2 separate regions of the Homo sapiens genome follow, and region 2 is linked to region 1. A link means that fine-mapping ties the variant in region 1 to the expression of a gene that starts in the linked region. Tissue or cell type: whole blood. Region 1 holds a variant in brackets; the other region holds the start of a gene. All regions are shown on one strand. Distances are from middle to middle. Region 1 overlaps RAP2A (RAP2A, member of RAS oncogene family). Region 2 holds the start of RAP2A (RAP2A, member of RAS oncogene family).

What was found.
Region 2: it holds the start of RAP2A, and the variant in region 1 is fine-mapped to the expression of RAP2A in whole blood (INTERVAL, PIP above 0.99).

The regions. Positions count from the first base shown.
Region 1 is chr13:97,461,018-97,469,363 of GRCh38, reverse strand. RAP2A (RAP2A, member of RAS oncogene family) reads right to left here. Exons shown (of 2, transcript NM_021033.7): 2 at 236-5,159. The coding sequence ends at 4,922. Among named protein-coding and RNA genes, the nearest start is that of RAP2A, 31 kb to the right of the region's middle. The variant T/C (reference allele first, on the strand shown) is at 4,454.
Region 2 is chr13:97,430,729-97,439,074 of GRCh38, reverse strand. It overlaps RAP2A (RAP2A, member of RAS oncogene family), which reads right to left and starts at 4,906. Exons shown (of 2, transcript NM_021033.7): 1 at 4,291-4,906. The coding sequence starts at 4,604. RefSeq lists silencers at 685-878, 4,730-4,789, 4,810-5,169 and enhancers at 5,320-5,369, 5,390-5,519, 4,791-5,722, 5,670-5,809.

The DNA.
Region 1 (8,346 bases):
AGGAGATCGAGACCATCCTGGCTAACATGGTGAAACCCCGTCTCTACTAAAAAATACAAAAAATTAGCCAGGCATGGTGATGGGCACCTGTGGTCCCAGCTACTTGGGAGGCTGAGGCAGGAGAGTGGTGTGAACCCGGGAGGGAGCTTGCAGTGAGCAAAGATCACACCACTGCACTCCAGCCTGGGTGACAGAGCGAGACTGTCTCAAAAACAAACAAAAAAACCACAAAAACTATTTATGAAAATATTTATTAAAAATACTAGATAATATTCAACGATGTAAAACCAGTTGGAATGATCCATTTAAGAGATGAAGAGCAACTATGTTTTATTAGTATTTATGTGGCAACATATTTTAAATTAAGAAACGAGGTCAACAGCTTCTTTCAGAAGTTTGTGGTAATATTCTCTGCTTCATAGATCCTAGAGGTCAGTTGGGTTCCAAATTGGGCAGCACCTTACTCCTTTAGCTACATATATTTTCATTCGTGGACCTCTAACAGACAAATAATATAACTTGAGAGAATTTCAGAGTACTACTTTTTAGCCTCAAAGACGTTCTTCCAACTATCCACTATTGATACATTTAAATAATTTATTAAAAAATTTACAAACACTTCAAATAAAATTATGAAGTTCTTCAGAAGATATTCCTAAAATATAGGCATGTTTTCCTTTAAATATCTGGGATTCTATCTACAGTGCCTCTGTTATATTCATTCAAATTATTCTTATAATCTAAAACAATGAAGCTTCTCAACTGGTGGAATGCTGCCAGAGGATTTCAACAGAGTTTGAAGGCAACATAACCAAAAGGCATAGTTTAAATTGGCTTAGGAAATGAATGGGCTCCTTATCAGAGCAGCTGAAGGCTGTATACAATTAACAGCATCTGTCAACTTTCATAGGGCCCCATATAGAACAAGCAGGCCCTACAGCCTGGCGGCAACCTTCAGCTTCTGGCACCTTCGGATCCACATGACCTGAAAACAGAAAGACGGCTTCAAGCCATCACTAGAAGGCCTCTGAATCATTTTAGTGATATTGCTAATTAATGTTAATTATTTGAACAATTCTGTTAACCTTAGCATCAGGCTTTAAATTAACCAGCTACCATTCAAAATATAAAATCATTTGTAGAGATAAGTTTATATTTATAATAACTGATTTTACAGTCTCTTACATGTTATTTTTATTTTTAAAGACTATGAAAATTATCTACCTACCTGCCTTTTTATATGATGAACTCTCAAATCAGCTAAAATATTTTTGTATGAAGAGTACTAAATTCATTATATGGCAATTTTTAATTGTTTTTGTATATAATACATTTCTCTCATGAGCATGTACAAAACAAAGCAAATCCAGAGTTTCATTAAATAAATTTATTTGTTAAAATAATTTAACTCCAAATACAACTGTTGAATTTGCATTGAGTTATAACTACAATTCATGTTTTAATTGAAATGTCAAGGTTTAACAACTGACATTGTTACAAAACAATAAACTTGTTCAATTTTAAATGGTCAGTTGTATTAGAGCGCAACAATTAACTGTGAACTATATCTCTGGGAAACCTCAAATCAATAATGATAAGTCTGTTTCCAAAACCCACTGCAGTCATTCTTGAAACCCTGATCAAGATTTAATAGATGAACAATGACATGTTAAATAAAAAAAAAAAGACCTCCATAGTCCTTAATGTTTGATTGGCTAAGGGACAATTAAAGCTTACCCAGTGCTAACACAAGACTGCTGATAAGAACAAAAAAATTAAAAACACACACATAAACAAAAAACAGCAACAAACAAAACAAAGCACTTTCATATTCATACATACACTGACAACATTAACATTCATACTGGAAAACCCTTGAAAAGAAATACCAGACAGCCTTAGGCAACATTTCTTTATATAGAAAAGCAAATATCAGTAGTATTACCACAGAAAGGTGATGGCAACTGTAGCAATTTGAGTCAAAAGTTCAGTCCTAATTCTACAAACCAAAGGAGAAAATCATCAAAGCACCTTTCAATAGTTTAAGAAAATATTTTATGTAATACTTTTGATCAGATGCTGGCTTGTTTTGTATAAGTTGAACAAAATGAAAGGCATCAGTTACCATCACTATCACAGTTTAAAAGAACCCAAAAGTTGCAACATCAAAAGAAAAAAAAATTCAAAGATGCTGCCTTTGTATAAAAGTAAAAAAAAGAAAATCTTATCACAAGAGCTAAAGAAAAAGTGGGTCTTTGGATCAAACCATAATATTTTTAAGGCATGTTAGAAAAACTTTCACTTATCTAAGTTGCTAGTCTGATCAGGGCATAAAATAAATAGTGACACAAGGTCAACTTTCTTCTGTAGCCACTAAGGTTTCGTATGCCAACAAATGTAATCTTCCTGTTCTTAAGTGTTTTATTACTGTAATATCTCAACAAACACATTCATTTGCCAGCTGAGTTATATATTCATACCAGATGGATATGAATTTCCAGTTTCGGGATGTCCTTGATGCCTTGGTCACTAAATATGCAGGGCTGCGTGGAAACACTCATCAGGCAGCCAGATCAGTTCTTATTCATGTCTTGACAGTAAAAGCCCACCCTGTCATCTGACACAAATGTTTTTAACTATTAATACAACTCAAAATTTTAGGTCATCTTTTCCACTTTACATTCTGCCATATCTTTCATATTATTTAACCTATTTTCACATCTGCATAGCAAGCCATAATGTCAAACTGTGGAATCTTTATAGATATTTCTATTTTGCAATCTTACTTGTCAAAAATTGCTATGAATTATAGAATTCTAAAGAATCATTCTGAGAAGTTAGAGGAATCAAAACTCAACCAATTCACTAACAAATATTTTTATTTCCATAGAGAAATCATATATCTTGAATCTACAACTTCTCTACATGTTTGAATCAAACCAACTTTTACACAGTGAAATTCGTTTCAATAAAATTGGTTAAATTTTTTTGTCCTATAAACAAGGTGGTTCATAATTGAGGATTATAAAAAATTATACTGAAGAATGTAAATATTCAAAAGTCAAAGATTTATGACAGCTATGGCCTGGTTTCATTCACGTATCTCTTCAGTTTTTTCATTATGAAAAATACTATCAATCTTTTTTTTTTTTTTCACCCTCTAAGCTTAATGCCAGTTATTAAACACTTGGGGGGCTACCAATGATTTCATAAAAGTATAAAAGACACTTTAATAATTTAAAAGAAAAAAGTTTTTGATACACTATATTCTGCAGTATAGATTCTTAGTATAGGCAATTATCTCTGACTTGTGCCAAATTCTTAGGAACAATAAACACACATGCACACACAAACACACACTCTTCTCTCAGTTACACACGTAAGACCAGAGGTTACTTGCACAAGACTGTGAAACCAACAAAATGTGGGGTGGTGTATAGATCGCAGGCTCAGTGATATTGCAGTTCTGAAGGCCAAATTCTTCTCCCAAGGCCCAGCTCAAGATAATCTTTTCAGCATTTATGTATAACTAAGTTAGCTGAAGACCCCTCTATACTTGATTGTAAAACTTATGAATAGGTTTTTCCTGTGCCATTAGTCATGCAAATGATAAATACTTCACGACTATGAAAACCAAAAATGTCAGAGCTTGAGCACCTTTTCAAAACAAAATTTTCACTCCAGCTTTATTTGACGCTTCAGTAATCAGGGCAAAATTGTTCTAAGAAAACCTTTATATAATTCTCCAGGAAAATTAAAGGTAAAAGGCTTTTGTCCCTTACCTTCCACTCTATAATTTATGTTCACTTTTAAGCCCAAATTATTTCACATGGTTATTCAATTTTTAAAATGCCTGCAATAAAGCTCTGCTACAGCAAATACTTGATTTTGAAAGCAGGTTAGCCACGGGTCACACTACAACCATAGCCCTTAAAGGCGAGAAGGAATTTGCTGCTTTAATGAACTTAAAAATGCCAGATATTCGTACTGTCCTGTGAGGTTTCTGCAAACGGGAACATGTGGATGCAACATGGCTTCATCTTCCTTACATGATGGTACTAGTTTATCTATTAGAATGCTTCTTGTTAGTAAGGCTAGGTAATCTCTTCCCATCACAGTTGCTTCCCTCTTGTTCAGTAAAGTTATAAAGACCACCCCTAACAGAGGGCGGGTTTGGGGTTTTAATTCTGATCAAACCCTTGTGAAAGCCTCCATTTTCTGTGGCAAAGCAGGTGAATTAACAAATTCTAAAGCCAGACTATATTTTTACATAACCTGTTCTGAGTTTTGCTCTATCAAGGATTGAAGCATGAGTTAGTTCCATGTCACAAATTAGAATAACAGCTACAATTAAGCATCAATTTTGAAAAACAGAAATGTGTTAGCTGAGCAAAGAATCTCCCTGTAATGCTGTTGGCAGGTCAGCTGTTATTATCTTACTTGACGGAATACA[T/C]TGGTTAGAAGCTCTATCCCATTTCCTGAAATTCAGTACTCTTGTAGGAAAATATTTCTCCTTTACTTATTTTTTTAAAGAAGACAAAATATTTTAATTGTAAGTGGTCAGAGGAATTCTTCTGGTTTCTCCCTTATGGTTATTTTTAATTTGTACAATAGTTGCTTCTGTCAACTCAGCGACAATGCCATCATAGCTTTCAAATGAGATCACCCTGTAGATCGATGGACTATGCCTTAAAGTTGCAGATGCATAAAGGAGACTGAGGACAAATGGTGAAAACTGTAGTTACTGAACCCAAATGTTACTCAGAGATATCAACTGACAATCACTGCTCAATTCTGAATAAGGGCTGCAGTTCTCTGTAGATTAACACCACGCATTCTGCAAGTTCTGCAGTGGAGTAGGCGAGTTTTCTATCACCTACGACATTGGGCAAATCCCATCCAGGACAGCCATATTTGGATGCTATTGTATGTTACATGCAGAACAGCATGGGTCATCTTTGTCAGGCTGAGCAGCATAGTTCATCTGCCTCACAATTTCTGCAAAGAGTTCGTCCACCATTGTTTTACTCTTAGCGGAAGTTTCCATAAAGGGGCAGCCCCACTCTTCAGCAAGGGCTCTGCCTTCGCTGGACGATACTTCTCTCTCACTTTCCAGGTCCACTTTGTTCCCAACCAAGATGACTGGCACTTTCTCATACCTATGAGAGAATAAACAAAACACACATACATTGTAACAGTTAGCACAAAGTTAAACAGGTCACGTGTATTTTCGTTTTTGGGGGCTATTCCAACATAAATGGTATCTTCAGTTGCATGAAAATGATTTGTACCACTTGGCTTGATACTTAGATCTGAGGGCATTTGAAGCTGCTCTCACAGTGGATGATAAAATGAGTTTTATGAAATGATGTTTTAATTAATCAATTATATATCCTTTAAAATCAATTTACCTTTCCAGATATACTTGGAAAATTATTCTCAGAAACTCAGACTAAATCCTCTTTTTTTTCCATTCTGAGAGAGGGTTGCACAAAATTTCACAGTTGATCACACAGTAAATAGCTACAATGAGTAAACAAACAACTTATAATTATCAGCATTTTACTATGTTCTATGTGTATAAAATTGATCATGTTCATACAAAAATCAGCTGGGTGTGGTGGCAGGTGCCTGTAGTTCCAGCTACTCGGGAGGCTGAGACAGGAGAATCGCTTGAACCTGGGAGGCAGAGGTTGCAGTGAGCTGAGATCGTGCCACCGCACTCCAGCTTGAAAAAATGATCATGTTCGTTCTAATAGTTCTCAAACAAGAAAAAAGGTAGTAGAAATCATCCAAATGGAAGCTATCAAATACAACCACACCCCATCCCTTCAGAAAACTTTTATGGATTAGTCAGTTCAAAGAGAAACAATTAGGATTCTTTTAAGACTGACAAGAATTCAGCCTCAATTAGCTTTAATTGGTGTTATTTCTCTTTTTCTTCCTAACTAAAATAGGTATCTCTGAGTAAACACGTTTGGAAAAAGCTAAACTAATAAAAATAGTAAGTGATAAGAAAGAACAAAGAAAGAAGCTCCTAAGTCATTTTGGTGCCTAAGATGATTGTCTCTACAATGGTTACTCCATGTAGCACATTTCACAACAGATGTCAACACTGGTGCTGGACTGCACATTTATTTACTATTCTTCTTTATGTTTGTTCTAAGAAAGATAGCTAATATATTTTCACAAGACATTTTAAAAGGTTTTTGTGATTTTAGTATAAATCTGTGTGTGTGTGTGTTTGTGTGTGTGTGTCTTCCCATAAGCAGAATGTATTTCTGATTTAAAGGAGCTAAACAGCAAGATCGCACAAAAGTGATAACAAATGTGACTGGAAACAGCTAAATCTGTCAGAAGAGAAAACCACCCCATGGTCAAGCCTTTGAGGCAGGATGCATAGACAATTTTTATCATTCAGGAAACTGGATAATAGGCAGGTGGTTATTGTTCGCTATGATACTTCCACAGATTTCTTCATCCTGTCAAGAGGGTTCTCTCCACTCATCCTAACTTGTAAAGCAAACCAAATTCCCAACATTCTCACTTTTTTTCTTTGACACTATATCAAACTAAGAATGGTCTCAACAAGAGGGCATACTCCAGGTAGTGTGCCATTTGGCAATGTGAAACATGAAAACAACTTAAAAATGAGTGGAAGGAACAACATCAAAGGCAAACCTAGAATTTGGATATTATCATTTTATAGGAAATGAATTTGGACAACTTCAATTTATATCAAAGGACTTTATATAAATTTACTGTACACTACTGTACCTTACGATTTCGGGCCTTAGATCATGCTGACAGCTCTGAACATAAGACACAAGGGTTTTTAACATCTTCTAGGACTCTTACATACAAACAATTTGTGCATCCCATGGCCTCTAGGAGGGCAAGTGGCAGTGAGAATAAAGCTGCATTACAAAACACCATGTATTTGCTACTTTGCATATAAACTCTCTTGATTGGCTATACAGAGAAGCTTGGCAGGGAGCAGACACTGCCAGCCATGTCAGGACAATGTCAGCTTCCAATTTGTGTTACTTGCAAAATGTAATTACATTTCGTTTTTCTTATGAAAGTATATACATCACAGTGTACTTTAAAATGCTTTGCTTGACAGTGGAGTAACTTAAAAACATTAATAAAATTAAGTAAAACATTGGTTGAATTTAAGTTAAAACAAATTTCAGTCTGTCTATGAATAATAAAAAGTGATAAGATCACTTTCTATTAGTTGAGATAAATGATAAATATTTTAAAGAATGTTTAAATACAATATATATAATATATAAATATATATATAAATATATATATAAATATATATAAATATATAAATATCTATATAAATATATAAATATAAATATATAAATATATATATATATATATTTTTTTTTTGAGACGGAGTCTCGCTCTGTCTCCCAGGCTGGAGTGCAGTGGCATGATCTTTGCTCACTGCAAGCTCCGCCTCCCGGGTTCACGCCATTCTCTTGCCTCAGTCTCCTGAGTACCTGGGACTACAGGCGCCCACCACCACGCCCGACTAATTTTTTGTATATTTAGTAGAGACAGGGTTTCATCGTGTTAGCTAGGATGGTCTCGATCTCCTGACCTCGTGATCCGCCCGCCTCAGCCTCCCAAAGTGCTGGGATTACAGGCGTGAGCCACCGCACCCAGCCTGTATCATGTTTTATATGTGAAATATTTCTTACACTTTTAGTTAAGTTCAGGATCTACTAGAATATGTGGATTTTCAAAACTTGCAAATAAATCAAATTATTAAGTTGTATTGATACATTATTAAAATCAAGAATTTGAATAAATCTTACCATCAACCTAATTCTCAAAACAGTAAATAAAATATTGCAAACACAGTTCCACATATAACAGCATTTAATAACTGGTAAATGTAGATGAAAATGCAGTCAGTATCAGAGGACCTGTTTATTATATCACTAACTTGTCAGTGGCCTTTTCTAAAATCAAGTTTCTAAAGACACTAGAGAAATCCACATTAATATCCTCAGAAGATTTTTAAACTGAGTACGATGTTGAGAAAAATTATGTACATTTCAGAATACCAGACGGTGATAAATTTTGTCTCTCTGTTAAAATTTGGGACAGTAGAAAAGATTCTACACCCAGATTTGGAGGCTCTGCTTCCAGTTCTGCCAATGAGATCATTTCCTTTACATATCTGTATTTCATTTCTTTGATAGTAAAAAGGGAGTAAGAGTATCTGTTCCCACTTAACACAGGGTTGCTGTAAAGGGCAAATGAGATAATGCTGAAAAAAATGAAGTACTAGATAAAAGGAGGGTGCTTGCTTCTTTCCCCTCCTAA
Region 2 (8,346 bases), 30 kb after region 1:
TCCATCTGGAATACATCATGTTTCTGATTCTTTGAGGTTCGTATTAAACACTGCCCCAACTGGAAGTGTTCTCACAGAAAGTTCGAGCTGAAGGAAGATCATCTCCATCTGCAAAATGAACTTTAAAAGATCATCTCCTCCATCTATGAAATCAAAATGTTTAGGGAAACTGAGGCCAAACAACAATACAAATACTTTTCTTTCTGAACATTCATTTTTTCAACATTTTTTCTTGTTTCCTATGTGCTAGTAGGAGCTGTGTCACCTACGTGGGCTTGGAGTTTTGTGAGAAAGGCTGGCTACCCATAAATTATCACACAAATAATTAAATTTGGATGAGTGCTTCAAAGAAAAGGGAAAGGACAGGGTATGTGTGATTGAGCAAAGAGGTGAGGCATAAAGTTTAGTAAGGGAAGACAGGAAAGGGGTTACTTTGGTTTGAGAGGACATCTTCCCTCAGTGGGGAAAAATCTTTTAACTCATCTATGCCTAGTGTTCCATTATTGGAACACTAAGCTTGTGGGAGTTATTTATATCCTACTGTTCAAGGTCATTGCTAAGGTCTGATATTTCACAAAAAACATTTGCAACCTCCGGTATAAATGGGTTAAGCAGGGGTGAGGGTGAAAGACGGAGTAGGAATTAACTCTGCAAAAAGGTAGATTTCCACAGGCCAAAGGAGAGCCCAGAGAAAGGTACTTTCAAGGACTTAAGGTCTGGGTGCTAGAATAAAAGGATGGGTGCAAGAGGTGAGGCTGCACAGGCAGGGAGGGATAAGAGCAAGCTGGACTGTGAAAGGTCATGTTGAAGATTTCTGGACTTTTTCCTAACAGCAAAGAGGCCTTGTATATCATGTTCCAAGAACTTCATGTCAGGACCATGGCTGATCCTGGCATGGGTAACAATGAAAAAAGCAATTACAAAATCAGAAAAAAATTCTAGTTTTATTTCAACTGAAAAACATTTCCTATATCCCTGTTACTCTTCTTTGTGTGTGTCATCTCACCCAAAATCAAGTTAAGAAAAGAAAGCATATGAATTTACAAATATAGCCATTTTCAGTTGGTCCACTTGGCTTTGACAAGAGGTCATGTATGTATACGGAGGTATGTACACTTACAGACACTTAAGGGAGTATGGGTCAGTTTCACATTTCTTAAAAGTGAAACATTTCAAGTAATAGCAATCCTTGAAAATGACTGCTATTATTTGAAATGAAAATGAAAAATGAAAAGCTCCATTCGTTGTTTGGCTATGCATTAGTGCTATGCATTATTGCTATACTGTACTTGAAGTTAAATGTTCATTCTCATGCCCTTTTCCATCAGATCCTTCATAAGGGGAAATAATTTCAAGAGAATACCAACACAATTCTTCCAAGGATTATTTTAACCTCATTGCTTTTTAGTCTCATCTTGAATATACTAAGTAATGAATTCCAAAATGCAATTACAAATTTATTTCTTCTAAAATTACATTTATATCAAGGGTAACATTTAAGGAAGATAAATGACAAAGTTATTAAAGTAAGAATGACAGCTAGAATTTTTTGAGCAATTTCTGTGTACTGGTATTGTTTTGGGAATGTTAAAATACATTATCTCATTTAATTCTAACAAGGACTCTGGAAGGTGCATGCTAATCTCTATTTCACAGATAAGGAAACTGAAGCTTAGAGAAATAAGCAAGCATTTCCCCAAATCATATACACCTTAGACCTCTGTTGTCCAATATGGCAGCCTGTGGCCACATACGGCTACTGAGCACTTGAAATGTGACTTGTTTGAATTGAGATGTGGTAGGTCAAACACATACCAAACTTTGAAGACACAGTATAAAGAAGTAAAGTACCTTATTAATAATTTTTGAATACTGACATGTCAAAATGATTCTATTTTAAATATGGTGGGTTAAATAAAATACATTAAAATTAATTCCATATATTTATGTTATTTTTAAAAAATCAGCTACTAGGAATGTTAAAATTACATATGTGGCTCACGTTATATCTCTATTGAAAAGTGCTGACCTAGACCTAAAGCTGAATACTGAATTTGACAGTAGATATCAAATACTGAAAGACTGGTAAAGAAGAGGCCACCTGCATTCACATGTCCTCTCCATCAATGATGGGAAGCCAGACGCTGGGGTTAGGATGAGGTGTAAAATACCTTACTACTACCATATTACAAAGACACACAAGTGAGGGTCCAAGAGGTTCTTATGTATACAACGGTTGAATTCTGGTGAAGAGAATTTATGAACTCTACTTCAGCTGATCAATGATCTTTTTATATCAAGAACTGAGACTAGTGAGTAAAATGATACTGGGCATGCAGAATTTTACTCTATGTTTTTCCTCTGGGTCATAGTGAAAATAAACAAATTGCTCCAATATGCTGAGTTTAGACTAACCTATTATTATAACTGAGAAAAGTAATCTGCACTAAATTACAAGAAACTACAAAATTATGTGGACCATATTATCCAATAATATTTTGCCATATTTGTTCCCTAGGCTTGTGTCAAGAAGTTAGCCATGGGTATGTGGCTTTATCAGTGTATATGTGCATCTTCATATCTTTAAGCATATATATCTAAATGTGAAGGGTGAGGCTGTTGGGGCATTTACTTAGATTATTTTTTGATGTATGCATTTGGCCTAACATTGACATGTGGCAATGTATCAGACTACCCTGCAGTTGGTTTGGTTTGTTTCTTTTTAATTGAGTGGTTGGGGGAGGGGGTAATAAGAATTTAAGTAACTTAAATGTAGCCCCTTAAATGCCATCCTCATACTAAGTTTAACACCAGAATTGTTCATCTCTTAACTATAAACATTTAACTTTAGGAAAATGATACTGGAGAAGTACAAAGCTATCAAATTTACAAATCTTAGCAGCAGAGACCACGAAAATATCTGCTTTATTCTAGTTTGGAATTTAACACAAGGATGAATAACATGCACGATTTTAGTTCAGCGATTAAAGTGCATACTCAGTTAAGGGGGGGTGGAGCAATAGAGAGAGAGCCTTCTCTTTGATCTCATAGGTTGCATTAAAAACTCACTACTCGTAATGAATTTTTGATCATCCCCTGGGTACACATAACTTGGTCCTTGCTCTTTCAAAATGAGTGGACTCAAACTGACTTACAATGTGACTGTGTCTACGGTGCACTTACAACCATCTTTCAGTAAAGGTCTTCAGATTTAGGCTCTAGGTAGAATAAGGCAGGAAAAAAAGGACACCAAAATTATCAGCAGGCATTAACTAACAAGAACTAGATGAAACAGTAATGTGTAATTAAATGATAATTAGAAAAATTTGCCAAAACTTTGAACTAAGATATTATCACATTTCTAATGCTTAAAATTACACGGAAAAATATATTCAGTGAATTTAAGAGAAAACAAACATTTTAAATCATTTATCAGCCATATTTCCAAAATGTATACTTTAGAAAAGAATTTATATATATATATAAAGGCTTATTAACATTAACTTTAAATTAGCTAATACTTGTGTCACACTTTTGAAGAAGCTTCTGTTTTGTTTCCAGGAACTGGTGGTGGTGGTGTGGTGGTGTTTTTTTTTTTTTTTTTTTTTTGGAAGGGGTTAAGGCGGCTATATTAAAAACAAAAAAACAAAAACAAACAGTTAAGCTGCATTCTTTTCCTGTGAATGGCTTATTTGTACTCCTCTGTTAATATTCTCGAAACCCCATTTAGCTTATGATGTCTTCAAATAATTTAATAATCTGTCTTTAAAGTTTTGCACTAAATTAGAGACTTAATTTTTGTAAAACGCCTTGGAACCATAAACCTTTAACGAGATGAGAAAGGTCTCCTTCCTCTGGACTTGACTTTACTGTATAGGTGTGTGAGCGATTTTTACTGTCAAACATTGCCAAGGCAGATTGTTGTTGTTCAGTCTGCAAATGTCTCGACTATACCTGCACAGTTCCTCTCTTCCCAAGACAAATCTATCCACCCCTTTCCCCCCTGCAAGTTTTAAACTTTGTTTCCTTGGGGGCTCTGTAACAAGCAATGCTAACAACGTCCAAGAGACAAAGAGCTGTTCTGTGGGCTAACACGATGCCAAATTTTAGTTGTGAAACAAAGCACTCAAATTTGAGATTGAGGAGGAGGAGCAGAATGACAATAGTAAAGCCTCCAGCTTGGAGCCACCCCCCAGAAAGCCCCTTCCCCGGAGCCCCGCGCGGGGAGTTCCAGCCCCGGGACGGTGACTCCGGGGTGCAGCCGCCAAGCCCCCGTGTGCCCTCGCTCACCGCTTCACGCGGATGATCTGGTCCCGCATGGGCTTGATGTCCTGGAAGCTCTGCTGGTTGACGAGGCTGTAGACGAGGATGAAGCCCTGGCCGTTCTTGATGTACAGGTCCCGCATGGACGCGAACTGCTCGGTGCCCGCCGTGTCCAGGATCTCCAGCACCGACGGCGACGAATCCACCTCGATCTCCTTGCGGTAGAAGTCCTCGATGGTGGGGTCGTATTTCTCGATGAAGGTGCCGGTCACGAACTGCACGGTCAGGGCGGATTTGCCTACCCCGCCCGAGCCCAGCACCACCACTTTGTACTCGCGCATCGTCCCTCCGCGGCCGCCGCCGCCGCCGCCGCCCGCGACATAGACCTACGCCGGCCGCGCTGCGCCCCCAGCCCCGGCCCCGGCGGCCCGCCCCGCCGCCTCCCGCTGCCGCCCCCACCTCACAGCCGCGGCGGCCCCCTGGGCGCCGGCGGCGGCGGCGGCAACTGAGGGAGCAGCGGCCCTGGGCATGGGCCGGGCCGAGCCGGGCGGCGATGCGGCCCCGTAGGCACCGGGTGGGACTGAGGGCGAGCAGAGAGAGAGACCGGGAGCCGCTGGTGCCGCCCGAGCCGCGGGCCCGCAGTGCCGCCCGCCCCGCCCCTCGCGCCTCCACGCCCAGATCCCCGCCCGCCGCCGCCGCCGCCGCCGCCGCTACCCCCAGCGCTCGAGCGCGCGCCCGAGCCCCAGCCGCAGCGCGGCCAGGGGCGGGGTCCGGCGGCCGGGGCGGAGCCCGCGGCGCAGCCCCGCCCCCGCCCCCTAGGCGACGGGCCGCGAGCGCTCCCGAGAGGCTTTGCGGGGCTCGGAAGCTTCTGCCCGCGCGGAGATAAACAAGCACCGCGACCGCCGAGCAGCGCCGAACCCAGCGCGCCCAGTCAGACCCCAGGGCCTGTGTACCGAGCATGCGCAGTTCCCGCCCAAGCCAGGAGCAGCGTCAACCTGAGACTCCCGAGACATTAAGAATTCGGAAGGGATGAGATGGTAGAGGGGCTAGAGCTACCTCCAAGCTTTATCCTGAGGCGGGGAGTGAAGGAGAGATGCCCAAGGCCCAAGAGGGGCCGCGAGGGCCTTTGTCCGATGCCACCCAGTCTGTCAGCACTCCTAGAGCTTTGGTTTTATCTTGTATTAGCATGTGAAGCTTTAAGGGGGGGGCACCTACAGGCTTCTGACTGAAGTTGTGTAAACGCAACAAAATGAAGCTTTGGAGCGTTAGGACATTGATGGGAGGGTGACGCCCCCCTCTAGCAGCGCGCCAGAGGGGCGAGTCAGAGGCGGCCACACACCACGGAAGTCGGGTCCAAGCCCGCTGACGTCGCCGGGGTCCCGCCCACCAACCCTCTGGACCCGCCCACATTTCTTCTAGACCCGCCCCTTTCGGTGCCGAACTGAAGTCGAGCTCTTCCCACGCCCTGTCAGCCACGGGTGAGTTGAAAACCTGGAGAGCGGAATCCCGAACGGCAGCCGGAAGGCCCTGGACTCCTCATAGCAACAGCCAGCTAGGGGCATCTAGTGGGAAGCTGGGATTCATTCTAGCCAACCACATCACGTCTCTGTACCACAAGGTACCATTCACGACCAATAAGAGAGCGCCCCCATACCACGTGCCTTTACTCCTTCAACCAATCGAGAAAAACGCTAGTCGTAGGATCCGCAAGCCCACCTCCCAGTGCCTTGCCAGGCGGGGCTCTTCGCGCACGCTCTGCCAACCAATCGTAGGTGAGCTGGCGAGTGACGGAAGCTTCGGCCAAGCCAACCAGAGCTCGCGAGCCCCTTGCCACCGAGGCCGGCGGGATGGAGACAGGGACCGGCTGCTGGGGTTTGGGAGGGGCAGAGATTGAGGAGCCAGTTGCTGTGCCCTGTTCTGGCAAAAGAACAAGATGCGTTGCAAGCCAGAATGATGAATTCCACTTTTCACGTCGCCTCCGTGGCATTCTGCCTAAATGATGGGCATGGAAATGGTGCTGAGGGATGTGGGCTGAATCGAGAACACAGGGACTTTTGTCTTCAGGGTGAGAAATGTTCCGGTCCTTAAGGAAACATCGTGCAGCAGTTGCATGGGTCTTCCAGGCGTTCCTCCCAAAACATTATTTTTTTTCTTTCACTATTGAGTTTTAAAACTTAGCGTTCTGTCGCTAGCATTGCATCTTAGTTACACATCCTCTCCCACCCATAACGTCAAATTTAGGAGACGATACATCCCCAAGCTTTCCTGCATTATTTTTTGCAGTAACTGGTTATTCAGTTTACTTTCTTTAAACTATGTCCTTCTCAAACTAGTCTCACCTGTTCGTTACTGTCGCACATTTCCTGCGAATAACACGTTTCTGTAGTTCTGTTGTTAGAGCCTGGCATACCTCTCCCCGTTCCTCTTTCCCACAAGGTCATCATGCAGAGGGGATTTTGGTCTGAGTTAAAAGCCAGGTATTCTTTCACCATCTTTTCTGTCGATAGTCAAACTACTACAAAGACTACTCAAATTTAGTAGTTTCTTATTTCCCTATAGCTTCGTTATATTAGAATGGATAACTTATATTTGCATTACCTTGCTGTAATGAACACACACCAAGTTTTCATTTAAAATTATCAAGGACAAATGTCCTCTGAATTTAAAAATGTGTATGTAGTAAAATATAACTCAGCATTTCTTGATTACATATCATTAAAATATGAATGGTACTATCTGAGCCACCAGAATCAGCAGTGAAGGTATTATATTAATAAAAAGGACTAAGAATCAGGACTGTTTTAAGGGAACTGGAACCGAAGAGGATCTACTATTTCATCCTAGGCTAGTTAACATGAAATAGTGAATTAAAATTGAAAGAGCTTACATGGATGCTTCATATCTGAGCTACTTTGGCAGGGATGTTTCAAGAGGATGTAGGTAAGTATGGTGTTCACCTAGCTTTCCAGAAGTCTCATATTTTGTGTAAAATTGGTATGCTTATTCATGGTTACTTTGGGTTAGTAGAAGCTATACTTCTTTTCCAAGGAAAGACAGACTGTCTTAAGATTCTAACTGTGCATCTTGGTGATAAGAAGTTCTTAGGGTTGTTAAATAGAGCCAGGAAGCGTGAAGCTTTCTCTCTAGATCATGACAACTCATCTAGTACCTTGCATTACAAAGGAGCTCTAAGTCCATTTACTTTGCAAGGAATGAAGTTCCAGTGATTAATGTTTTTGAGAAATTTGTATTGGGATTGTGGGGTCCAGAAGGTTGCCTTAAGTAACTGTTTTCATGACTCCTAGGTCCCTAGATGTTGAGAAGCTCTGGATTGAAGCTGTCACAAAAATAGTGAGTGGGCTCCGTAGTCACTCCATTTAGCATAATACAGAGTAGGACAGCTTTGTGACATTTCTCAGGCTATTTCCCCTGACCTCTCATCAATGCTGACGTTTTTGATAAGAAGGGGTATAGAGACTGCAGCCCTTGGGGTGGTTACAGTTCATTTATTTACAGGCCTTATATTGACAGGCCTCAGATTTCATGCTCAGTACCATAAAGGTTGATTTTTAACCACCAAGAGGCAAAAGAAACATGACAGGTCGGAGCATATTTTCTCACCTATTCTGGCTTAAATGATGGTACTTACCTGATTTGTGGTTGTAGGTGAAATGTTGGGTGAAAGATTAGCTGCTATAAAAAGGATGTCAGGACGTGTAGAGAATTTAGAGGACTTGGGTGGGAGATGGATGTCTATTTTCTAACCCCTTAGTCATGTTCATTCCGATGCCAGCATAAACTCTATTTTGAGATGATTATAGAAATAACTTATATCTTCATTTGTTTGTGGGAAATAAAAAATAAAAATGATATAAAAGAAATTTGAATTATTCCCAAGAGCTGTAAATCTGTAAGATAGTGAAAACTTAACGCAGTAACTGACACTGCAGGATCCCTTTAGTTTCCAAAGTGCATTGCCAGGAGAATAAAAAGAAAGAAAATCTTCATTTCTCCTCTCTCCACTAAATCTGAAAGGGAGTTATCTCACCTATAGCCAGATACCTTCAATTATCGCACTTGTGT